2 separate regions of the Homo sapiens genome follow, and region 1 is linked to region 2. The links come from fine-mapping of genetic effects on gene expression. Tissue or cell type: whole blood. Region 2 holds a variant in brackets; the other region holds the start of a gene. All regions are shown on one strand. Distances are from middle to middle.

Evidence for each region. PIP is the estimated chance that this variant, and not a neighbour inherited with it, causes the effect.
Region 1: ALCAM starts here. The variant in region 2 is fine-mapped to the expression of ALCAM in whole blood (INTERVAL, PIP 0.99).

Annotation. Positions count from the first base shown.
Region 1 is chr3:105,365,681-105,368,338 of GRCh38, reverse strand. It overlaps ALCAM (activated leukocyte cell adhesion molecule), which reads right to left and starts at 1,430. Exons shown (of 16, transcript NM_001627.4): 1 at 858-1,430. The coding sequence starts at 930. RefSeq lists silencers at 936-1,055, 1,386-1,485.
Region 2 is chr3:105,506,295-105,509,140 of GRCh38, reverse strand. The region is part of intron 1 of ALCAM (activated leukocyte cell adhesion molecule); the gene reads right to left. Among named protein-coding and RNA genes, the nearest start is that of ALCAM, 140 kb to the right of the region's middle. The variant A/G (reference allele first, on the strand shown) is at 1,472.

The sequences.
Region 1 (2,658 bases), 140 kb after region 2:
GGCCAGGGGACGTCCCCGAGGGTGTGGAAAGGGATTTCCCGAGAGATATTTTAGTTGTTGGGAATTTTGCCTTTTCTCTCTCTCTCTCTCTCTCTCTCTCTCTCTCTCTCTCTCTTCCAAGACTCAGTACAGAACTGAGAACTGAGGCTCTATGAGCAGGTCCTGGAAATTCACAAACCTCTCACTGAGGTGTCTCCCAGGCCTACCTACTAATTCCTGTTCTGGCTGTGTTATCTGCCTGCGGTCACCCTTTCACTCACCACCCGCCCAGACAATGGACGGGGACCGCAGGGGGTAACGTTGAAACCACGATTTTAAGCTTTAGCAGGTTTCGCAAGGGGGGCGGGGGGAGGTGATTAAAGTCCTCTCCTTCTCTACCCCTCCCATCCCTTCCTCGGCTCACCAAGGGGAAGTTACTAGGGGATTTATCACGAAAAAGTGCCGGCAGTTATTTCATCCGAGAACTAAGCGAAAGAAAAACTGCTCGGGGCGCAGTGACGTGGACTTGGATACCCAGAGACAGGAGGAACTGTCAGAGGGCAAGAGTCCGCCGCCTAGCTGGGAGCCGCAGGGACAAGGGGAGAGCGTCAGGCGAATCCTGCCCACCCCGGAGCACCAAGTTCCTGGAGATTCACCCAGTTTCCCCAGCTTGATGCCCAAACTTGAGCTAACCAGCCAAGCCCAAACGTGCGGCACAGGTGACCGAGCCCGGGGACAGCTCTGTGCCAGGACAGCGGTCCCCTTACCTCCACCACGCGCCTGGGCGCACTGCCTCGGGGGTGCGAGGCTGGGACGGGGACCTAGGAAACTGCTCCAGGCCCACGTCTGTCTGGGGCTGCTCCCAGGCCCTTGCTCACCTGGCCTGAAGACGGTGGCGGAGATCAAGAGGCAGAAGAGCAGACGGCAGGAACTGGCCCCCTTGGATTCCATATTCCTCCTCCTTCTTGGTGGGCCACTGACGGAGTCCACGCCGCAGGAGGGGGCGTCGTCCCGGGCCCCGCGGTGCCCGCGCGCTGGCGGGTCCCGACGCAGGGGCAGCGTCTTCTCCCAGACACACCGTCCCCTGGGCTGTGGCGCTGCACCTTCGGTTCTCTGCCGCACGCAACTTTCCACCACGCAATGCCCCCAACTCCTCCTCCCTCCCGGTCAACACCAGCCCACGGGCCCTTCGGCTGCTCCTCCGGGGACAACGACCCTCTGTTTCCAGGAGACACTTGAGTAATTCGGAAAGGTGTAAGCGGTTCTTTTCGCTGGTATCTTCTTTTATTTTCCTTGTATTGGAATGATAATAATAATGGCAGTGGCAATGTGCATGAAACGCCAGGTGCTAAGAAGGACTCGCAGGAGGCGGCGACGGGGGGGCGGCGGGTCTCCTCAGGTGGCAGCGGTGGTAGCAGCGGCAGCGGCGGCAGCGGTCTCCGGGCTGCTCTGAGTAGAGGGACTGGAAGGCGTGTGTAAGCTGCCTCTTTCCTCCTCTCCCCGCCTCCTCCCTCCCTCCCGTCTCCTCCCCACTTCCCCGGACGCAGCGCAAAGCAGGTGGTTGAAGCGCGGATCCGCAGCCTAGAGGCGCTGCAGGACTGAGTCCGAGCCCTGAGCCCAGCTCCGGGATCAGGGAGAACCGCGTGCCCCGGTCCTGGAGCCCGGATGAGCGGTGCTTCACCGCGGCTCCGCCCCCAGGGCCAGGTCCGCCAATAAGAAGCAAGCACAGGAGCCGCGCGCGCCAGGGAGAGCCCTGGGACTAACACTTTCTGTGATGTTGCAGCGCCCCAGTGATAAGGCCTCTGGCTTCCAACTGCCCACCCACCCTCGCTGAGGTTTAAAAATCGACTGCCCTCTCCCTCCACCCATACGCCCATCCCACTGACTCATTCCTCAGAGATTTTTCTCCGCCGTGCTGCTGCAGCCTTCTGTCCTGTAAAGAGAATAGTGGGGCAGGGCGGTGGCGGTGGGGAGCGAACCTTGGGTCCAAGAGCGGGAGTGAAGGGAAAAGGAAAGGAAAGGGCAGGAGGAAGTGGCAAAGGTGGAAACTTGCTTCTTGGGAGTTAACAGGAATAGCTACTTGTTGGCAGGGGCAACCCCTGTACTGGACTGATTCCTCCTGTACTTTTCGAATCTCTCTCCTCCCCCTGCTCACCCCCACCACTCCCCTCACACCCGGCTGGCATAGACTTGGTTTTAAAGGAAGACTACGTGAGTCGACTGCCCGGTACCAACAGAAGATATTTGCTTTTCCCGGGGGAAATTAAATCCGGAATTTCTAAACCGTACTTCGTCATACGGATTTTCCCAATGTCTACAAAAGCCCTCTAGAGAGCGTGTCACTTTTTTACTTTGAGTTAAGCGGTGATTTTAAGTTATAGACAGAAAATCCTCAAATTATTTCAGATTAAAAGCCAAGTCCGTCTTGGTCCGTTCCCGAAAGCCAGGCACTCCAGCAGATGGACAGGCTTCTTAGGCAATTTCTAAAGATTGAACCACCTCCCAGGAGGAACATCGGGAAGCTGTGTTGCTTTCAAATCAGGCAGAGAGCATGAAGGAAGATTTTCCTCTAGAACACCGGGGTGGAGCTGTCGGAGCCCTAAGTGGCTCTAAATCAGGGATGCAGGATCACAACTCTCATCACCAAAGAATAATAAAATCTTGGTCCCTGAAGCACTT
Region 2 (2,846 bases):
ACACAACCAAAGTGTCTATTTATGGATGAAAGGATAAATAAATTGTCTATATAGATACAAACACAATAAAATATTACTCAGCCTCAACAAAGGAGACCCTGCCATTTGTGACAACACAGAGGAACCTGGAGAACATTATGCTAATTGAAATAAGCCAAAGAAAGACAAATGCTACATAATCATACTTATATGTGGAATCTAGAAAAGGCAAATACACAGAAACAGAGAGTGGATGGTGATTACCAGGGGTGGGAAGATGTCAGAAGTGGGGAGATGTTGGTCAAAGGCTACAAAGTTACAACTGTATAGGACACAACTAGAAATGTAAAGTACAGCATGATGACTGTGGTTAATAATAGTGTACTGTATAGTAGAAATTTTCTAAGAGAGTGGATTTCAGGTACTCTCATCACACACAAAAAATGATAACTATGTGAGGAGAGTGATATGTTGATTTGCTTAACTGTAGTCATCATTTCACAAGGCATATGTATATCAAAACCTCATGTTGTATAGATTAAATATATACAATAAAAGATTAAATAGACCTAGAAATACATTAAAGCAATTGGTAATAATACTGAATGTTTTTATGGTGTTTTATAGTTTGCAACATTCTTTTATATACATTGTACATTTTTGCATTTGGGCTTCACAAAAGTCCTGTATGATAAGCAAAGAAACCTGTATGATGAACAAATATTATTATCCTTCATTTTACCAATAGGAAACTGTTCTCCCTGCAAAGTCAAGAGAATAAGCCAATATCACGAAGCCAGTATGTGATGGAGATAGAGCTCAAAATGAATTCTCAGCTCAAGTCCAATTCTCATCACTATTAGATATACAAAAAATGATTCCATGTCCTTATTTCATTTTATATTGTGGATAATTCAAGAATATTGTTTTGGAAAGTATTAAAATGCTTTTCATATTTAGACAAATATTTTAAAAAACATATAGGTTAGAAGGACTAGAAAGAAAATGAACTAACACATTTTATCACTTCTTTCTCAATGGGATGCTATGTAGCAATTTGGCACTTGCTCCCAGGAAATACAAGTCCTGTCCGTGGCAGCTGTTCTAATTTTCAAAATAAAATAGAAAATCATGAATATTCAAGAAGATAGGCATCTTTCAGATCAGGAACCAGAAGTCTAATGAGGCTTTTTAATGTAGGTGGGGCACTCAGGTTACAGGCAGAGGAGCCCTATATGCATTTCTAACACCAAAAACGGCAGGGGTAGCACAGTAGACCTCCAATAAAAACGTACTGAATGACTAAAATGGCAAGGTTGAGATTAAAGTCTTTCTAACTTAAAGACCTGTGTCTTTCCTCTCTGTCAAAAACACTTTTCACAATTAACGACTTTTCAAATGAGTTGCAAGTTTATGTCCACACAAAAACCTGAACAAGAATGTTTATACAAGCTTTACTTATAACTTCTAAAACTTGGACAAGATGTCCTTC[A/G]ACAGATGAATGAAAAAATTGTGGTAATCCAGACAATGAAATATTATTTAGCAATAAAAAGAAATGAGCCAGCAAGCCATGAAAAAAACACGAAGGGACCTGAAATGCATACTGCGAAGTAAAAGAAGCCAGTCTGAAAAGGCTAAATACTGTATGATTCCAACTATATGCCATTCTGGAAAAGGCAAAACTATGGAGATAGTAAAGAGACCAGTGGTTGCCAGGGTCTCAAGGGAGGGAGGAAAGAATGAATAGACGGAGAACAGGACATTTTTAGGGCAGTGAAATTATTCTGATATGATAATGAATAAACATTATTAAGTGTTTGTCGAAACCCATAAAATGTACAACACAACAGGAAAATCTAATGTAAGCTAGGGACTATAGTCAATAATAATGTATCAACATCGGCTCACCAATTGCAACAAATGTACCACACTAATGCAAAGATGTTAATAATAGGGGAAACTAGGGGCAAGGGGGTGGGGAGGCAGGGAATTGCGGGCCTATATAGGAGCTCTTTACTTTCCACTCAAATTTTTCCATAAACTAAGAACAGATAAAAATAGTCTATTAATTAAAAACAAGTGATACACACAATTTCTTCAGCCTATGCAATATATTCTACATTTAGACAGTCTCATCTAAATTCCACTGGTATAGGGAGAGGGAAGGACACAAACATCTTCAAGGGCAAAGCTTTGGCATCCATTAGCAGAGGTGATTCCAGTCTAGGCAGCTGAATCCCCAGGCAGATTTCAGCAGGTGCTGACTTTCCAACAGCACCAAAACCTCTGATGAACAAGAGTGTCTTGAGTAGAGGCTTAGCAATTGCTGTTTTATGATTATGTTTTTCACATATTCCCAATCCCACTGAGGTGCTAATACATTTGGTTCATCTTTCCATTTTAAAAGAGACAATGGCTTTGATAATTTGTTCATGGTTACTGCTTAGGGAGATAATGACACTCAAAATTCCCCTAACTGAATATTATAATATTACGTCTTTGGCTCTGCTATTTTTAACAGCTTTTAAAGACAATAGTGTCATTTGGGTTTAAAAAAAAGTTCACTGTTCCTACTCATTAAAGGAATACTAGGTTATAAAGACGAGCTGTAAGAGTCCTAGCAGGGCTTCAGATTATATCATGTATTTAGTTTATGAATCTCATTTTGTTATGAATCTATAACTGAAACAACTCCCAATGCTTCCCCCAGGAAGTAATTAATTGGAAACCAAACAAACAAACCACATGGAAAAGACTGAAATACTTTGTATTACTGTCTGAAAATCCAATGGTAATTTTCAAGTTCATTCCCACCTGAGTCCTACAAAAATATGCTATAAGTGTGTGTTCTTCAGCTACAATTCTAC